Linked DNA regions of Homo sapiens: all the other regions are linked to region 4. The links come from fine-mapping of genetic effects on gene expression. A gene starts in region 4. Each other region holds a variant in brackets. All regions are shown on one strand. Distances are from middle to middle. Region 1 overlaps ZRANB1 (zinc finger RANBP2-type containing 1). Region 2 has its middle 25 kb from the start of ZRANB1. Region 3 holds the start of MIR4296 (microRNA 4296). Region 4 holds the start of ZRANB1 (zinc finger RANBP2-type containing 1).

Region 1 (5,123 bases), 47 kb after region 4:
AGGGTTCTTATTCCAGATTCTGGGCAGTGGTCTGTGAGTAGTTTTTTTCCTGGATGAAAAGGGAGCAAGCCCACTTGTCACTAAATGAATTGTGTGAAATGTGCTCACTTGGACTCCATCAACAATGTGCTGCTCCCAGATTGCCATGCCAGAGGGTCTTCGGATTCTTCCTTCTATCACCTCTGCTCTAAGCAAATCTTGTTAGAAGGGCATGCCTTTGCTTAGGCAGATTGGGAATACCAATTCACTACAGAATAAAGATTTTAAAAATGCAATAAGGTGGCAAATGCATTGTATGAAGAATTTCTCAGTGTTTAGTCTGAGAATTTTTGCATGTTGGTTAATTGTGGCCATTCTTTAATTTAAAGTTAAAACTATAATCTTAGGTAGAAAAACTTTTTTATAAGAAGTATTATTTGACCACTTCAGGTATACATTCAATACTGGGTAAAAATTTCAGACCTATCTCAGGAACACAGAAATATTTGGTGTCCTGATAAGCACTTTCTAGACTATTGATGTGGCCAGGAATTTGGAAAGACGACACACGCACGCGCGCGCGCGCACACACACACACACACACACACACACACACAGTTTTTTCCTTCCCTGTGATGAAAAAGGCTGTGAAAACCTTAAAGTATTTGCTTGCTTCTTGTTTTGTTTAGTTGATAATGAAATGTGTACAACCTCAAATTTGCTGCCAGAATACTAAAAATAGAAAAATACCCACAAAACTGTCATGTCTTTAGTTCTTTCCCCCCGAAAACTCAGTAAAAAGGTGTTCCCAGGATGAAAAGATCATTTTTTGCTGCATGCTAAATCTTGCAGGAAAAATGATTTTTTAGTACGATTCTGTAGAAATGAATCTTTGATATAATGTAAATGCTGCTGTTTGTTTCAAGTGGTGAATGTGTTGTTAAAAATTGGCTGTTTGCTTTCATTTTGGCCAATAAGTAATCAAGTTTGTAGAAAATGTTAGCATTCTGACTACTTAGCATCTGTAGTAATTTCTCTATGTATAGGGATAATTTTTTAGTGGGCAGAGATCCTGTTCTAGTTGCCTGTTAAGCAAAATCTGCCCTCCCAATTGAAAAAGCCAAAGAGAATTGTTAGAGGGAAAAGCATGTAGCCATTGCAGTCTGCATTGCAGCCAGCGTTGTCCAGAGTACACGCTCAGCACTTAGCTTCTACTGTGTGTTGTGGTCTGGTGAGTGTTGTTTCCCCTGAGCGCTCTATTATTTATTTATTTATTATCAATCAGTGACCCTGACCACATAGTGTGATAGGTGCAGCATTCTTCCCTGTGGGAAAGAATTAAAGATGGTTCCATTTCCTAGGCTACAGACAGGAATGGGGCTCTAAATGGTTTTCATAGACTGGCTGTTAAAGGCCAAAAATTTTGGTAAATCAATGCTATATTATGCTCTTGAACTATTAAAACAGCCATAATTATTGTCCCAAGATAGAATATAGTCCTTTTTCAAAGATGATTATACGTGGCTAGGTGACAGACATTAATGACTGACTCTGGAGAGTAAGTCATACCTGCACTCTGTGGACTTGATGGTTCTTTTTCTAGAGCAAACAGAGCGTGGCATTTTGTTTTGACTTGTTCTTCCTTGGGGTCAAATTTATATATATATATATAAATTTTTGTTTGGGCGACCAAGATCTAATAATTAAAACCCAGGTGGACCATGGATTCAGACCTGCCTTTTTATGTTTTTGACTCTTAGGTTCATCGTGTCCCAGACTTCTTCACATATTCGTGAAGGTAAGATATTCTGTGTGCGCTTGGCCTCCTTTTCACGCATATTTCATTGCCTCTTTGATGAGTGGTTACGAAGACGTTAAACTACCTTTTTGTTCCCTGGGGTAATAGGTCAGTAACTATGAGCGCCGTCTCTCTCCATGTGAGCTTGTGTTAATAGACACTTTTATGGTAGAGTTGGGATGGGGCCACCACCTTAAAATGAGTGAGCAGACAAGGCCAGGCAAGCCAAAGGCTTTAAGACACCATGATTTTCTTGTTTTGTTTTAATTGGGAAGGGAAGTATAAGGAAGAGCTCAGAGGGAGTTTCATACCTGGAATTGTTGGACTTAATTGACACTTGCAAATACTTTTAGTATAAAGGTTTAATTCTATTTAAAAAGAAGATCCATTAAATCAAGCTCTTAACTCATGGGACTATTTGCAACACTTCTTTGTAAATATCATTTTGTTTGTTAGGTTATTGGCAAAACAGTTTCAAGGTTCACTTCCCTCCCTTGAACCAGGTCCAGGTCATTTTGCTTTGGGGTAGATTAAAGTCAGAACTCTAAAAGTTGAGCAACTTTGTTTTTTTTTGAATTGATTTAGCACTAACCCACCATTGCATCTTAAGGATGGCATGACGTGATAATGATGGACTTGTGTGAGGTTTTGATTTTTCAATTAAACTTTTTGTTATCACAGGTAATTAATTGTCAGCGGTCTTGAGTCTGGTTATGGAACCCTGTAGTAACAAGAGCTGGAAATTGGCTAATTGACAATGCAA[T/C]TGCCTTAAACATCTCAAGTAGAGAACATTTACATTAGTGAGATGTACTTGAATTTCAGAACTTAACAAATTTTAATTACTTTTTATTGAAAACTGCACTGAACGCTAAATGTCCACCTTTACAATAAACAAATACAGTAACGGTAACTCACACTAAAACAAAACATACTTCTGATAGCCATTATTTTTCTGTTTGGGACAATTTTAAAGTTTTTCTTTTGTCACAAAAACAGGAATGTACCTATACAAAGGCTCAAAATAGGCCATCTTTTTAAACAAAAAGGCAATGATTCACAAAAGACTATGAATAGAACATGTAACTAGTTGATACAAATCTAATAGGATTTGTTAAAATCAGTCACATCTAATACATCTGAAGTGTTCTTGTATAAAATATCACGTGAAGAAAAGAAGACTTTATCAATGTCTAAAAAAGTGGGTTTGTTCATAGACAATCTGACAAGTTACCATAAAAAGTGTTTCCTGAGACATAAGGAAATGCAACATTATTCTTCTTGAACCCTTTTAGCTCAAGACTTTCCACTCAATAAAATAGCAGAGGATCTGAAACTGAGAAAATATATTTGAGTACAAACAGCTTGTGAAACTTAATACTTTTTTTTTTTTTTTTGCATCATCAGAGGGTTTTACTGAACTTACAACCGACTTGCCCGCTCAGTATGCAGTTCAGATGTGAGAGGCGCTTCTCTGTACAGCAGCCTGTACTGTCTTCAATCCTATGCGTGCAGGTGTCTACCACAGGCAAACAGTTTTCTCCCCATTTTGTAGTAATGTGATTTTCCTATTAGCAAAAAGAGGTCACCAGCCCCTGTAGACTTAAGGGACTCAAGTCACAGGATGGGGATTTCCTCTTAATATTTTTTATTTTGTTGTTTGAACTCTTGATGCAACATTGTAGAGCAGGGTGTTCAGGACCTGCTGTGCCCAAGGGACTGATAAAGGAAAAAGCTCTATTTATTCTTTTTGTGATTTGATGCACAGATGAAAAACTTAACACACAATAACAGAAGTTGGTCGTTAATAAATCACATCCTAGTCTTTCAGCGCTTCCGTAAGCAGACGACATCTTCAGTTTTCTAGCTCTTGTAGTTTCAACACTGCAACATCAATGATGCATATGTCCAGAATCAGTTACAAAGACCATCCGATTCTTTTTCTCTTAGTTCATCTATTTTTCACTGTCTCTTGGTCCCAAGTGTATCTGAGTGATTACCTTCTGGCATTCTCTGCTATTGCTCGTTGGGGTGCTCTCGATTGTCCCCGTGTTTTGTGGGCTGGTTGGGAGAGGGCGCTTGGGAAGGATGTGCCACTGTCGGGAGGTTGTGAGTCACTGGGATGCCTCCAGGGATGATCCCTTCCATGGCTGCAGGAAGTCCTCCTGGAGCCACACCCACGATGCCTGGCGGATATCTAAGGAACACACAGAAATAGGGCCTTGTAAGTTCAGGGCAGAGTTGCCAAGCTCTTGGCTCTTCTACTTCTGGCCTTTTCATAAGAGACAGGAGCCCAGTGACATGAACATGGCTCACCTTGACCGACCTTCTGGGCTCAAGTGATCCCACCTCAGACACCCAAGTAGTGGCGACCACAGGCATGAGCCACCACGCCTAGCTAGTTTTTGTATTTTTTTGTAGAGATGCGGTTTTGCCAGACTGCCCAGGCTGGTCTCAAACTCTTGAGCTCAAGTGATGCCCCATCATAGGCCTCCCAGAGTCCTGGGAGTACAGGCGAGAGACACCAGGCCTGGCTAATAGTTTTTTTTTTTTTTTTTGAGATGGAGTCTCACTCTGTCGCCAGTCTGGAGTGCAGTGGCGTGAGCAATCTCAGCCCACTGCAACCTCTGCCTCCTGGGTTAAAGTGATTCTCCTGCCTCAGCCTCCCAAGTAGCTGGGACTACAGGTGTGCGCTACCACACCCGGCTAATTTTTATATTTTTAGTAGAGACGGGGTTTCACCACGTTGGCCAGGATGGTCTCAATCTCCCGACCTCGTGATCCGCCCGCCTCAGCCTCCCAAAGTGCTGGGATTACAGGCGTGAGCCACCATGCCCGGCCCTGGCTAACGATTTTTATGGGATAGTTTATCTTCCCTATCCCCAAAGCAAGGAGAAGTCTCAATTTTTATATAAAACACTGGCAACTAATTCATAAAAACAAAACTAGTCCAATCCAAACACGGGGCCACTAATTTTGTAGCTTTTAGATAAGAAGATATTAGCCCATACTATTTATGAATGTGGATACATTATACTATTTAAAAAAACCCACTTTGTACAAAATGGACTCCCAACTGTTCACCAGTTACTTCTGACTGATAAAATGATTTCCCAACAGAGTACAATGGACCCTTAGGGACTCAATGTTTGTCTCCCTCCATCCCCCTAATTCCAGTTCAAATCCCACACCTTAAAGGTGATGACCTTAAGAGGTAGAGCCCTTGGGAAGTGACTGGGTGAGGAAATGACTGGGTCATGAATGGGATCAGTGCCTTTACACAAGGGAGTCTAGTCAGTGCTCTGGCCCTCTCTCTGCCATATGAGGATGTGGGAAGAAGCTGACGGTC
Region 2 (5,152 bases), 25 kb before region 4:
TTTTTAGACAGAGTCTCACTCTGTTGCCTAGGCTGGAGTGCAATGACACGGTCTCGGCTCACTGCAACCTCTGCCTCCTGGGTTCAAATGATTCTCGTGCCTCAGCCTCCCACGTAGCTGGGGTTAAAGGCACGTGCCACCATGTCCGGCTAATTTTTGTATTTTTAGTAGAGACAAGGTTTCACCATGTCGGCCAGGCTGGTCTCAAACTCCCGACGACCTCAGGTGATCTGCCTGCCTCGGCCTCCCAAACTGTTGGGATAATAGGCGTGAGCCACCGTGCCCGACCTATAATTACAGGTCTTTCTTTCTTTCTTTTTTTTTTTTTTTTGAGACGGAGTTTTGCTCTTGTTGCTCAGGCTGGAGTGCAATGACACAATCTCAGCTCACTGCAACCTCCGCCTCCGGAGTTCAAGAGGTTCTCCTGCCTCAGTCTCCCAACTAGTTGGGACTACAGGCATGCACCACGACGACCGGCTAATTTTTTGTATTTAGTAGAGATGGGGTTTCACCATGTTGGTCAGGCTGGTCTCAAACTCCTGACTTCAGGTGATCCACCCACCTCGGCCTTCCAAACTGCTGGGATTACAAGGGTGAGCCACCGTGCCTGGCCATAATTACGGTTATTTCTGTCTTACTCTTTTCTCTATGCTGTAGTTTCCTCACTAAGATGTGTCTTACCTTTGTAGGCTTCTTATTCATTGGTACGTGATATTCACTATTTACTCAACTGAGGAAGGAGATAATAAACTTTATCCCAGTGATATCCCATTTCCTTCCCAAAATAAACTACAACTCAAGCGAAACAAAAACACCTAATTCTGTGATTCCTGTTAGTTTGTAACTGAGAGGCTCTGCAGTCTGAATTCAGGAAGGGGAAGCTGGAGGAATTCAGGAGCTCTTAAAGAAAATATTTTCAAAGTTGAAATGTTGGCCTAACTATTGTTCTTAACATGGTAACATGGTGTTTGATCTGATCTACAATTGTGTTCATTATACGTTAATTATATATATAGCTCATATATATAAATATATATGAGAATGTATGTTAAGTTTTGCAGGCAAAAGACTTGCAATTTAAACTCAATTTATTGAATAAGTAATGTTGCTCTGGGCAGACAAGGATTGTCGAAAATCTCTACACTATAGGAATGGCTATGAGAATAAAATATGCCAGCGAAATATGTTGTTGGAGAGGGGAATCTATAAGATACAGCATCATTGTTTGCTGGCCATAGTGAAGCTAAACACACATTCTTGACCACATTTATGCAAAGAGAAAGCCAGAACACCATGAATAGTTTTACTAAATGAAGTCCCATTCAAATTTTAAAAATCTGATTAAACTCTGAATAATGGTCCTCCTGTTGAACCTGAGGTATCCAACTGCTAAACGCCCTTTGGCAGTAGTGATAGGTTTTCTCTAATAGATAACTTTTAAATTTACAGCTTTTAAAGAGTTGCTGTCTTTTATGATCTTTCAAATTCTTTCTTCTCCTCACAAAATTTTAAGCATGAAAACTACAAGGTAAAGTCCCACTGGGAAAAAACAAAGCTCTCTAGCTAGAAAAATTTCCCATACTCATGGGGTTTTAACAAATGGCTGGCTTATTCTGGCTATTTGGTTACTTTTATAGTACAAAAAGAAAGAAATACACATATTCTGTTTAGAACTTGGTTCCAGGTGATTCTCCTAAGCAGTATTTTTTTCCATAGCTGTAATTTATCCTGGGCCTGAAGATAGGTAAGGCTTATTTACAGAAATAAGTCTTATTAGGAAAGGCTTATTTCTAATTTACAGATAAGGCAGCCATAAGAAGGTCGGATTTTCCCAAGACTAGAGCCAGGGAGTCCTGGAGGAGAGCAAGAGGCAAGCTCTCCATGACTTTTCATCGCGTGTCCATCTACGTACGCACACATGTACCATGCAGAAAGCAAAGAGAAATATACACATACATCCATATACATGGATAGCCCCAGCAAAGGCAGGGGTAAAAATCGGACACTGCAAAACATAAATTTAAAAAATCAAACCATCACAAAGCACCTAGAGCTTTATCTTCCCTGGTGTTTTACGAAGAGCTTCAAAGTCCCTTAGAAAAAGTAAAGCAGCATCTAGGTTATAGGTAGATCACTTAGGATACGTGAGACCTGGGGGTTAACTTAAAACTCTGGCGCATCTGTCGCAGAGAAGAGGCAAAGCGCGCGTCCAGACACCGCCGAGGACGCCCTCCAGGCCGCCGTCAGCCGGCGCCCCCGAGCGCCACGCACCCCGCGGCAGTCCAGCACCCTCAAGACCGCAGTCGGCCGCGGAAAGGAACGGGAACTGGGCCGACGCGCGCCGCCGACTCACAATCAGGGCCGCGCGCCGGCTGACGTCACCCTGTGTCGACCAGCCCCCTGAGCCCGGAAAGAGGCGGTCGCTCATTGGCTGCGCCGGCGGCGGCCTCGGGGCCAATGACAGGGCGGCGAGCGGCGGGGTCTGGCCTTGACGTTGTGCCGCTCGCCGCGGGGTTTATTTGGCTCCGGGTCCCTCGGCC[G/A]CCGCCATTAGGGTCCGCAGCGCCCGCGGCCGCCTCCCACACCTCAGTGCCCCCGCCCCCCGGGGCTCCCCAGTCTCCGCGCCTCCTCTCTGCTCCTCTCCCCCGGCCTCCGGCAGCCGGGAGCCGCGCGCGGACCCTCGGAGACCATGTCCTGACTGAGGGGAGAGGGCGGAGGCGGCAGCAGCGGGGCGGGCGGCGGCGCGAAGGGAGGCGGAGAGGGGCCGGGCTCGACTCGTAGCCGCGGGCTGCGCGGGGAGTCGCCGCTGCCGCCGCCGCCGCCGCCGCCGCCGCCGCCGCCAAGCGCCCGTCGGACGGGGAGGAGGAGCAGGAGCTGGAGGAGGAGCCGCCGCCGCCAGGTAACCGGGCCCCGGGGGGCGCCCCACCGCGGCCTGCCGGGCCCCTCGCTCCCAGGCGGCGCCCAGGTTGCCGGGCCTCACGGGCTGTCCGCCCGCCCGGCGCCCCAGGGGCGACCGCGTCGCAGGCGCGGGGAGGGCAGGGGCCCGGGCCGCCGCTGTCGGCGCTTCCATCTTGGGCGCTCCGGTTGCGGGGACGGCCCGGGGGCTGTGGGAGGGCGGGTCCGCCCAGCTTGTTTACCGACCGCCGGCCGCCCGTGGCTGGACGCGGTGCCGGTCCCACCGCCGCTCTTCCGCCAGATTTCCCCACAACTTCTTTTCCTGCCGGAGACGGATCGGCGAGTGGGGTTTCGCTCCCACTCCGCAATAGGCCGTAAACACTTGGGTCCATCGCCACAAGTTGGTTCTGGTGTCTCCAAACTTGTATTTCAGTCCCTCGGCCGCTTGCTTTCCACCTCCTGCGGTGGCCTCCAGTTGCCATTTGTAGGAAAATAAAGGTGGGGGACGACGAGGCGGGTGGGGAGGAGGAGCTGGAGCTAGTGGAAAGATTCGTCTACCCCTCCTGCTCGCAGTAACGAGTGTTCAGTGCAAGGATCTGTTTTTTCTCTGCTATGGTTTGGTGCGGGTCATTTCACAGACAAAAGAACTGTAGTGAATGCTGGCATTAAGCGCAAGGGACAGGCAGTTTAGGTTAAGCCTGGAAGTTTGAACCGGCCCATTATCTTTGAGATACACTGGTGTTTTGAAACTCTCTTGCTGAGGATATTGTATTTCAGTCAGTTGATTACCCTTTTCTGTAACTCCGTAGACTATCGATTTAAGCGCCGCCCCATCTTACCAGTATTTTGGTTTCACCGTGTTTATGATGATGTTAATAAATCTAATGTGCAAAAATACCGTTTTAGGAACACAATTGGAGATAATTTTTTTTTGTATTTGAGACGGAGTTTCCCCCTTGTTACCCAGGCTGGAGTGCAGTGGCGCTATCTCGGCTCACCGCAACCTCCGCCTCCCAGGTTCAAGCGATTCTCCTGCTTCTGCCTCCCGAGTAGTTGGGACTACAGGCATGCGCCACCACGCCCGGCTAATTTTGTATTTTTAGTAGAGATGGGGTTTCTCCATGTTGGTCAGGCTGGTCTCGCACCTCTGACCTCAGGTGATCTGCCCGCCTCGGCCTTCCAAAGTCCTGGATTATAGGCATGTGCCACCGCGCTTGGCCTGAGAGAAATCTTTAACTCTGGGACCTATTATATAATGAGTTATTTCTTTACCTGTGTGTTTTAGTTAACTTCTTTTATCACTTGTGCAGCATCCAGCAGTACCCCTGTTTTGGTCAAACATGGATGACTCAGTGTACAAACCATAAGCCAGGGGAAACCATAAGGAATTTTGATCTTGGCTTGTGCCAAGGCTCTTGGGAAAGTCATCTGAACTATGGGAGAAATAAAGCTGGATCTTGTCTCCTTGTTATTATTTTGAATTAAATGAGGGAATTCTAAAAAAATTTAGAATCCTATTGACTTTTGGCTCTAAAGATAGGCAGTCTCTTTATACTAAAATTTCATAACATTGTTTTTATTGGGCTGTTGGGGGTTTACGAGATAGTAGGACAGTAATGACATTTTGCTCTTTTGAGGAGGATGTTATCTGAGTGTCATGAGGGATTTTATTTCTGTTGCTGTTTCGATACCTTTTATTAATGCCTCAGAGCATTGGGACACCCATTTATTTACTCTTGAAATGTGCTTGGGTGTGATGAACTCATTCATGGTAATATATTTTAAGCTCATGGCCTTGATCCATGTCTGTACACTGATAGGGGTTATGGATGTCACATTTAAAGTCTGAGGATTAACATAGTTTTGGAACTCATGATCTAGTTGTACAATATATGAGGCAAATTGCTTCATATGTGTAATTGATACAGTGAGAGCTTGTCCATGTGCTTTATAATAAATGTAAACTTTAAATGTGAATTACAAAAGTAGTCCACTGGCCGGGCCCGTGGCTCATGCCTATAATCCCAGCACTTTGGGAGGTTGAGGCGGGCGGATCGCCTGAGGTCAGTAGTTCGAGACCAGCCTGGCCAACATGGTGAAACCCCGTCTCTACTAAAAATACAAGAAAATTTGCCGGGTATGGTGGCGTGTGCCTGTAATCCCAGCTACTCGGGAGGCTGAGGCAAGAGAATCTCTTGAACGCCGGAGGCGGAGGTTGCTGCGAGCCGAGATCCAGCCACTGCACTCCAGCCTGGGCAAC
Region 3 (5,152 bases), 92 kb after region 4:
GTGGTGGCGGGTGCCTGTAATCCCAGCTACTCGGGAGGCTGAGGCAGGAGAATGGCGTGAACCCGGGAGGTGCAGGTTGCAGTGAGCCGAGACAGAACCATTGCATTCCAGCCTGGGCAACAGAGCAAGACTCCATTTCAAAAAAAAAAAAAAAAAAAAAAAAAGTCTTTCCTCTCATCAACCCCCTACCCCCTGCCCCCGAACGTCCTCAACCCAAAGTAGCCAAGTTGGCTAATCTAACGCAAAGGGTGGGAGGCCACACCAAATGCACTGGTTACATAGCAAACACAAAGTCTGGCTGGGTTTTAAAGCAGCCTTCGTCTAAATCACGCAAGCACACAGCAACAATTAGCAAAACTGCCCAGACATCGTTTCAGGTATCAAAGGGGCTGAGTGCACCGTGCACCCTTGCTTGCACACTGAGTGCTCTCACCAATTTCTGGGCCTGGAGCGCGGAGGCTTGGGCACCCACGCAACGCGCCAAAGGAAGTCAGGAGAGTGACGTCGAGTGTCTGAACCAACCCAGCCTTTTTCAGATTAGCTGCATCCTAAGAAGCCCCAGTCCTCATGTCTCTCAGTATTTAGCCATGGTAAGTGAAAACAAAGGCCTGCACATTGCTTCTGACTCAATTTCTTAACTATATTGTAAAGCTTCCTGGGAACTGCATTATGAAAATTAGACCACTCATTATGGGGTTTCAAAAGAAAAAAAAAAACAAGCCCATTCTCTTGCACTGCCCATTTTGAAAGTGTTGGTGGAGCCAAAGTGTGCAACGGGACCCCAGCTGGGATGCAGGACAGGCCTCACCTTGGACCATGTCAGGATTCCCATTTCTAGCAATGGAACACACTCAACCTCAAGAGGCTGTGCTCAGCTCTGGACAGCACCCGGCACAAGACGCTCCGCACAGTAGGTGCTCAATGAACACCACCCCTTCTGCTCTTTAGCAGCTTTTCCTGCAGATTCCCAAAGTCTCCACCTCACCTCCATGGTGACCCGCCCCATCACACTCCACTGTTTGAGGTCTCCTCGGCTGTCCTGCGATCAGAAGGTCCCAGGATGCCGTCCTTCCTCTGGTTTTGTGAGCAATGCTCCTAATCAGGGCTGGCTCAGCGAGCCCTCCCCCATGAACCTTTCTCAGTCCAATTCTGTCACTTTGTCCTTAGTCCAAAAAACCTGCCACTCCTCAAGATGAGAAAGGCACCCCAAAAATAGTCCAGGGCATGCATGTGCCTGTAGAGACAGGCCAAGGCATGGCCGCTTAGCCCCTGACCTGCGGAGCGGAGCGCACCCCTCCCTCCACAGCACGTGCTCCCTCCATTCATCACGTGCTTTTCATTTTGTTTGACACCCGGGCTGTAAATCAAACTGTCGACTATGACTCAATGGTGATGGACGGCTGGCCTCAAGGGAGTGTACGGTGTGATGGGGAAAAACGACAGAGACATGGACACAGTCCCCAGAAGCCCCTCCCCACAACCACTTCAGCCCTCTGAGCCTGAGCCCACATCAAAGCCCAAACAGCCCCATTTGCAAGCCTGGGCATGGTAGGCACTAAGCTAGGCAAAGCACCCACCGCCCAAATACAAATGGCTGCCTGACAGAGACCTGCTCCACCTGAGCCTGCACACGGACAGTTTCAGCACACGGGCCTTGATGGGACGGTCAGCCTTTCTTAGGATACGAAAGAACTGACTCTCAGCCTCACTCCCAAGTCTCGGATAAATCTGCGTCACCCATCCCAGGTTGCAAATGGGAAGGGAGGAACCCTCCTGGCACAGACATCTCTTCAACCGGAACACGGAAAACAAAACCCTCAGGTGATGAGAAACAGGCTGGAGGGACAGGGAGTGTGGGATCCCACTGTGCCCCAGCGCTGGACACCCAGAATGCTCTCCCCTCTCGGCATCTTCACAGCCCAGCTGGGGTGCTCAGCCAGGCTCCTGCTGGATGTGGAAGGGCTGAGAAAGGCACGTGAGGTCACTCTGTAGATGGAGATGAGACAGAGACAGAGGAACGCCCTCGAGCGCGCACGCCAAGGTGCCTGAGCTTTAGTAGCAAGCGAGCCAAGTGGTAGAAACCAATCAGAGAGGAGTCTCATTTCACAGCTTTAACACTGTACGTTCTGGAAAAGGAGAGAGGGCAAGAAGCCGGCAGCAAAATGTATCTTGGGGTTCTGGTTCACAGTCACCCCAAATACCTGTCAATTAGGTTGAGCTGTGTGAAGCGCGCAGAAGGTTCTCCGCATTCGTGCGGGCTGCTGTCTGCTGCTGTCTGGCTACCCTGGGGCCTCCTCCAAACACGGAGACTACGGATGCACTGTTCCCCCCGCGGCACTCCTTCCCCCTGCCCACCCCAAGCACTGCTCCCCTCAAGGCACTGACTTGGCCTGAAACTAGAGATGCTCTTTTCCCAAAG[G/T]TGCCGGGACCAAGAGGACAGGCACTGAGAGTAAAGCCCTGGGCAGCTGGGCCCAGGGGCTCCGGGCCACACTGTGGGAGGTTTCAACTCAATCATCGATGGAGACAGGGCACCACCAACCAGGCGGTGGGAAACAGCGCGATTCACTGTGGTAGGGGCAGGAGCTGAAAACCGCAGCTGCAGAACCAAACTAGAAGACGGTGATGAACCCCCAAACCCCAGCCACAGACTCCAGTTGCACTACACATCCCTGGCCCCCCAAATAAAAGCAAAGTGGCCTTAACATGTTGCTATTAGAAAAAAGTGGTGAGTATGAAGACATCCGCCCATCACCAAACTGACCGGTGCAAAGAGACGCTTATGTTTGTGCTTGAGAAATGAGTAACAACAGAGAAATAAAACACCGAACCTGATTCACAGCTGCAGAACGGGAGGGCAGTCTATGAACCCCATCCCCAGAGTCGGTGGAGGAACAGGTGGGGTGAGGGGTTCCCTGGGGAGGGGTCCCCCACTCTGAGTTTCTCTTAAAGCCGGGGACAGATAAGGCAAAACATGAAACTTTACCCCTTGCAAAGAACCGCACTTTTGTCTGTGAAGCTTTGCCTTGGCTGTTTCCTGAACCTTTACCTTTGCATAAGATTGTTTGGGTATGTTCATTTGTGCTTTGGGGTTTTAAGGCATGTCTAGTTGACTATTGTATATTTACATAGCTAATGTAATTACAGCTAATCACATAATTGCTGGAAATGTGCATAATTGCCTGATCCCAACATATAATTATAATGTATAGCAACATTATGAATCCCATTTTTAAAATCCACATTTTGGGGCTATTTAAAGTTATTTATTAGAACTGTTTGTGGACTACCTATAGGCAGGCTTCAACTCTGTTTCTTTACGAAGCGCTCAAAGTGCTTTAAAAAAACAAACAAAAACAAAACAAGTCCTGATTTTATAATGCATCTGTACAAAGATAGGTGAAAAGAAAACAGCTACTCAGAACAAAAACAAATAAATCTTAAATACCAAACAAAACCATTTGTCAACACTCTGTGGATTATGTTCTTTCCTCGGGGAAAGAGAAAGTCACTCTCTCATCCTGGAGGCTCTGATGGGTGTTTGCCAGGCAAGGAGGCTGCTGGAAGAAGGAAAGAGCCAGAGGGACTTCTAGACCACTTGGGTAACCTTGCTGACCCTGGAGGCGCCTGTCTTTGTTCCTTATACGTATGGATGACCTTTCTTGGGGGTACATCCCACTGACATGTGCTTCCACCATGGCAAGTTCAACCCACTGAGAAGAGCAGAAGAGCCCGCGACACAGAAGAGACCCACTGGGGAAACTCCCTTCCACCTCATCCCCGGCAGCATCTTCTCAGACTTCTCATCCTCCTGCGACAAAGGTGATGCAGAATGAGATTCCCAGACTTTCTAACTATCTATGTGTTTCACAGAAACCAGCTTGTCTCCTTTTTCCTCATATCCACCCAACCAGCTCAACGTTCTCATTCCTTTTATCCTCTGTGGTCGTGAGAACATTCCAGAGGTGCGGAATGTTTCATGAGCTTGTTTATTTAAGAGGAGGTCCCTTTTATTTTTGCAGAGGAAATGGAGAAGCACCCTCCCTGAGTCATGTTACAAGGGGACTACTCACAACTCAGCTGATACCATCCTCGGGGGACCATTTTCCACGTCTCTAACACATTCGAACAAAACGCAGTAAAACGAAACACATACTTTTTTCAAGTTGCAATCGCAACAGCCGCAGGAAAGGGGAGCAGTGTTTACAGACTGATTCTATCATAATCCACAAGAAGCAGCTCTAACAAAAAGTTACCACCAACAACAGCCATTGTGGTTTATTAAGTTCTACAAACCCAGGGCTCTGCAAGATGCTCTTCTGGGTTCCCTTTGCAATGCTGAGTGATTGTTAGCTAGCCCTCATTTCCAACCAATAGATGTTTGGGGCAAACCAAAGGAGCTCTGGCATAATGCGATAAAGTAGGTACTAAAACCCTCCAGCTGGTGCAGTTCACAATGTCAATTATGTCAGCAGACTAAACAGATAGGAAGATCTCCATTATACTTGAGAATGAGGAGACCACAATCTTGTTCTGATCAGCCTGTGTTACGAGAGGGCTCCTTCGTAATAATTCTTACATGGTATTATAGGATTGCTTGATAGCAGGCATCAGAAAAAAAAGGAACAATTATAAATAGCAAACTCAAAGAGTTACATTAAAAAAATTAAAATGTGGCTTTTACATTGGCTAGAAAGACCATTATTCCAGCTCATTTGGCTGGAGTCCCAAAGACTGTCTGTGTCCTGCTCTCCGAGTAGAGACACAGCCTGGCGGAGTGAATCCCCACGGCAGATTCTGGGCACACAGAAGGATCAAGCTCCATGCCACTTTTTCTTGCTTTGAAAAGTTTCAAAGAGGAAGGGGCTGGACAGGCCTTAGAAAACAGGGAAAGGTTGTACAAGTATCTGTGCAGGGGTGATGCTCAGATTCCAGCGGAGTACCTGGAGTGGGACCCTGGAGAGGCCTGCCTGATTCCAGCCTAGGGACCCACGACCAGGGCTTGATGTTGGCATTGTGTAGCAGGCGGGAGGGGACGAATTTTAAGGAGCTGGTGTATCCAGACACCAAGAGCAGGAAGACAAAGTTCCTACAAGCCTGGGAGCAGACCGGGTAAGCACAGCAGAACATGGCAGCTTCATGCTTTTAATCATTT
Region 4 (5,152 bases):
CCTTTTTTGTAGTGATGGAGTCTTGCTGTGTTGCCCAGGTTGGTCTTGAATCCTGGACTCAAGTGATCCTCCCACCTCATTCTCCCAAAGTGCTGGGATTAAAGACTTGAGCCACTGTGCTTATTATCTAATATAAGGCACATCTCAAAACTCTTGAGCTTGGTTTTGGTATTGCTTAGTTACCTGGATTTTCAGAGGTTGGTGGGCTAATTAGGCAGCTGTCTGTCCATTATTTTACCAGGCATTTATGACAGTGATTATTTTTTATGACAGTTTTTTGTTTGTTTTTTAAATCAGCCTGGACATTTAAATATATTGTGCCAGCATATTAGTTACATGAAGATTAGCTAAGATAACATAAGGTTACGGGCTGTTTAGTTGCACCTACAAACATAGTAAGACTTATCAAAACAAGTATGGATTTTGAATGTGAATATTTTAAAAGATATATTGAAATTACTTAGAGTAGCCCTGGATATATGTTCATTATGGCATTTATCTTGTTAATAAGTTTCTACATGCTCATTTTAATTTCCAGTAGCATGAGCAAGTAACTTATATTTCATTCCCGAGAAACTAAAAGAATCTGCCTAAAGAGTATGAAAATTGCCATTAAATCTGTATTGTCTACTTTCTGGATGGTTATATCATTATAGTTCTCTGCTCTTCCACACATTTTTGGGCTGCTATCAGTTTGTAAGTAATCATTATACAAACTAAATTTAAAAATTTAAACAAGATAATTTTATATTACTTGGATCAGGGAAAAAAATGCAGTTGCTGAAGGTGGTTTCATAGCTAAATATAAGCAATTATTTTGCTTTTTCTACTTTTTTGGATTTTATCATCTTTTCCCTTTTAGTAATAGAGTAATACAGGTAGGAATTAACTTAGCACTGCCAAATTAATAGTAATATTAGAACTGTGTACACAGCACAGGGTTAAGGTTATATAGAAAAATGTCTCATCCATGTTTAATTTGGCTGACCAGCCCAGTTGATTAGCCAATTTTATTGTTTTGTTAAATTAAAATTCTAAATATAGTTGTCCATTGTTAAAATAAGTGAGTAGGGTTAAAATAGAGAATTGATAAAAATAAAGCCTTAAAAATCTTTTAGCTAAAGTAGCAGGCTTCAAGTGAAATTCAGTTTTGGTCTCCTTTACAGGAATAGCTATTCAGTCAGACAGAACCACTTATCACGTTTTGCAGTATCTCCTGAGGAAGTCAGAATTCTGAGCCAGCATGAAGACGGAATCTTGTCTTTGATCTGATTTGCAAACCGTACTTTTATTCTAATCATGTGCAAGGTGGAGGTTATAGCGTGGGAACTAAAATCTTAGTAAGTGTGGTTTTTATTTTAGCTATTAAGTAGTATACTTTCTTATAGTGATTTTTTTTTCTTCTTAGCAGAGTTCACACTATAAATGGTGTATGGACTTGGCAGGCAGGAACATAATACAGTATACTTCAAAAGTGAAAGATTTAGGCCAGGCGTGGTGGTTCATGCCTGTAATCCTAGCACTTTGGGAGGTCGAGGTGGGTGGATCACGAGGTCAGGAGTTCATCAAGAGAAGCCCGGCCAAGATGCTGAAACCCTATCTCTACTAAAAATACAAAAATTAGCCGGGCATGGTGGCATGCACCTGTAATCTCGGCTACTTGGGAGGCTGAGGCAGGAGAATCGCTTGAACCTGGGAGGTGGAGGTTGCAGTGAGCTTAGATTGCACCACTCCACTGCATTCCAGCCTGGGCAAAACATAGCAAGACTCCATCTCAAAAAAACAAAAATGAAAACAACAACAACAAAAAAACAAACAAACAAAAGATTTAACCCTCTAGGTTCAGGAAAAATCCCTGAGAAAGAGAGAGCAAAGCTTCTATACTCTGCCTAGGATTTCTTTCTCTTTCCGGGTGAAAAATAGGTGTTGGGATGATACTGAGTTGATAAAAGTATTTAGGAAAAGTGGCCAGTGTCTAAATTCAAGCCATTAAAAAAAAAAAAATTAAATTTGTTATGTAAGTTGCTTCATTTATGAATTAGTTGCCATTAAATTATGAAGTCTTTCTTCATTATAGTGTAGTGTTAGCCCATTGTTGAATCCTAGAAATCTTTTAAGTAGTGTGAATATCTTTTAAATATGAATTGGATTTTTTGGGGGGCAGGGGATGGAGTCTCACTCTGTCACCCAGGCTAGAGTGCAGTGGTGCGATCTTAGCTCACTGCAACCTCTGCCTGCCGGGTTCAAGCAGTTCTCTGCCTCAGCCTCCTGAGTAGCTGGGATTACAGGCACCTACCACCATGCACGGCTAATTTTTGTATTTTTATAGAGACGGGGCTTTACCATCTTGGCCAGGCTGGTCTTGAACTCCTGACCTTGTGATCTACCCGCCTCAGCCTCCCAAAATGCTGGGATTATAGGCTTGAGCTACTGCCCCCGGCCATGAATTAGATTTTGAGTATATTTTAAATATTCAAAATTTAAAATATTTTAATTATGAACATTCACAATTATATTGGAATGATTATGCTACTGGTTATTTCAGTGACCTTCCACAGATTTAATTTTCCCCAGTACAGTCTTCTTTTTTTTACTCCAGATAGAACTAGATTTTGAGGCTACAGATTATCAAGGAACTACCTATTTCATAATGTTACTTTGTTAATTGTAGCCATTACTTCTCAACATGTTTCTTTACTACCTGTGCTAATTAAGAACAGTGGATAATTAGCATTTTAAGTTGCTTTTCTCCCTTAGCGAGAATGATAAAATAGACGTTGCTTGATCTTCTGAATTCATGAATCATAATCTGTGTTCATAATTTGAGAATGGTTATGTGTTTAAGCTATTTTTTAGTTTGTGTTGTTTCCTCTACCTTTGTCTCTTTAAACTATTGGTTACTTTTCTAAATTGATGTGATGGCCTCCCTGAAATTAAACATTTCTATTAGTGGCTTCCCGTTAATCTCATCCTTCTTAGATCAAACCTCGTTATATCTCCTGCCTATCTCTTTTGCATTCCAAAGTTCAGTTTTATTAAATCCCAGGGTCTAAGATTTTTTCTTTGAGAATTTATCTCCAGTGTTTCTATGGAAATTAAAAAAGAAAATTAGGATAATTCAATGTCGAAATGTTGCATGCATCTTTTGAGAAATTTATATTTTGTAGGTTGAAGGACTTGCTTTTTGGGCAGCGTATTTTTGGAGGTGGAATGTAGTTATTTTAATAACCATGTCCTAATTATTTATAGCTTCCTGCCTGACACAGCTCACTTCAAGAAGTGCACAATGTCAGAACGTGGAATTAAGTGGGCTTGTGAATATTGTACGTATGAAAACTGGCCATCTGCAATCAAGTGTACTATGTGTCGTGCCCAAAGACCTAGTGGAACAATTATTACAGAAGATCCATTTAAAAGTGGTTCAAGTGATGTTGGTAGAGATTGGGATCCTTCCAGCACCGAAGGAGGAAGTAGTCCTTTGATATGTCCAGACTCTAGTGCAAGACCAAGGGTGAAATCTTCGTATAGCATGGAAAATGCAAATAAGTGGTCATGCCACATGTGTACATATTTGAACTGGCCAAGAGCAATCAGATGTACCCAGTGCTTATCCCAACGTAGGACCAGGAGTCCTACAGAATCTCCTCAGTCCTCAGGATCTGGCTCAAGACCAGTTGCTTTTTCTGTTGATCCTTGTGAGGAATACAATGATAGAAATAAACTGAACACTAGGACACAGCACTGGACTTGCTCTGTTTGCACATATGAAAACTGGGCCAAGGCTAAAAGATGTGTTGTTTGTGATCATCCCAGACCTAATAACATTGAAGCAATAGAATTGGCAGAGACTGAAGAGGCTTCTTCAATAATAAATGAGCAAGACAGAGCTCGATGGAGGGGAAGTTGCAGTAGTGGTAATAGCCAAAGGAGATCACCTCCTGCTACGAAGCGGGACTCTGAAGTGAAAATGGATTTTCAGAGGATTGAATTGGCTGGTGCTGTGGGAAGCAAGGAGGAACTTGAAGTAGACTTTAAAAAACTAAAGCAAATTAAAAACAGGATGAAAAAGACTGATTGGCTCTTCCTCAATGCTTGTGTGGGTAAGTTTCTGTATTCTGCATTTTTTGCGTGGGATGGGAAAAGGTAGTAAAAATGATATGAAAAGAGCTGGGTGCGCTGACACACGTTTGTGGTCTTAGCCACTTGCTTGAAACCAGGAGTTTGAGGCTGTAGTATGCCATGATCGGTCTGTGAATAGCACTTGCACTCCAGCTTGGGTAACATAGTGAGACTGTGTCTCCACGCACATGCAAAAATGTGAGTGTGTGTGTGTGTGTGTATATATATATGCGCAAAGTCACTAGCATTTGATTCATTCAGCACGATAGCTGTACTTTCAAGTATGCATACATAAAAATTTGTGTATTTGTGATCTTGTCGTAACTTTGTACTAAATTGCCCACAATTAATTGTGTTCATGTCTCTCCATTACTGGGGGCAGTGGAAACGTTTAAGTTAAAGCAAAGTTTTTACACATCAGCAGTAAAATATATACCTGGACTTTAAAACTGCTACTCTGTTTATTGTAACAAGATGTAACTGAGGAACACCAGCTGCTGTTTCCAAGTATTTGTAAACAGTGTGAGCATCTTGTGATGATAGAAGCTTTAGTCAGATGTTAAAAATACCACAAAAATGTGTGACTCCAAGAAGTTGAACAAACATATTGACCTTGAAAATACTGGTGTTAATTTAACATGAATGTCATGTAGTAAATGTTTGCAAACTTTATGGAACTGATTACATGTAGCCAGCTGATTCCATACTTCAAGTTATGGTTCATATGTATTGTGACATTTTCCTCAGGAAATGCTGTTAAAGGACAGAGACATAGGAGAGCAGAGTTTTTCTTCAGTTCTTGACCTTGTGAGTTAATTGTGATGTAATTCACAAAAGCAGTGACTTGAGTCTTCAGTATTTTTTTTTTGAGTAGATTAGATGTTTGATTTTTATTAAATTATTTGGATGGGCTGCTTGCTTTGACATTTGGTCTTATGAGGGAAATTTTGAATGATTACTAAGTTTAAACTTTGTGTGGAACAATAGCTAAGCTTTAACTATACCTTAGCTGTATGTTTTCCCTCAGTACCAA

What was found.
Region 1: its variant is fine-mapped to the expression of ZRANB1 in whole blood (TOPMed, PIP above 0.99).
Region 2: its variant is fine-mapped to the expression of ZRANB1 in whole blood (TOPMed, PIP above 0.99).
Region 3: its variant is fine-mapped to the expression of ZRANB1 in lung (TOPMed, PIP 0.96).

What each region holds. Positions count from the first base shown.
Region 1 is chr10:124,985,728-124,990,850 of GRCh38, forward strand. It overlaps ZRANB1 (zinc finger RANBP2-type containing 1), which reads left to right. Exons shown (of 9, transcript NM_017580.3): 9 at 1-2,462. It overlaps CTBP2 (C-terminal binding protein 2), which reads right to left. Exons shown (of 11, transcript NM_001329.4): 11 at 1-3,971. The coding sequence ends at 3,791. Among named protein-coding and RNA genes, the nearest start is that of MIR4296, 45 kb to the right of the region's middle. The variant T/C (reference allele first, on the strand shown) is at 2,541.
Region 2 is chr10:124,914,377-124,919,528 of GRCh38, forward strand. It overlaps a transcript of ZRANB1 not described here. Among named protein-coding and RNA genes, the nearest start is that of ZRANB1, 25 kb to the right of the region's middle. RefSeq lists silencers at 2,487-2,846, 2,907-3,176. The variant G/A (reference allele first, on the strand shown) is at 2,541.
Region 3 is chr10:125,031,350-125,036,501 of GRCh38, forward strand. All of the region lies in intron 3 of CTBP2 (C-terminal binding protein 2), which reads right to left. MIR4296 (microRNA 4296) reads right to left here and starts at 1,521; the gene lies at 1,434-1,521. The variant G/T (reference allele first, on the strand shown) is at 2,420.
Region 4 is chr10:124,939,208-124,944,359 of GRCh38, forward strand. ZRANB1 (zinc finger RANBP2-type containing 1) reads left to right here and starts at 2,916. Exons shown (of 9, transcript NM_017580.3): 1 at 2,916-4,100. The coding sequence starts at 3,287.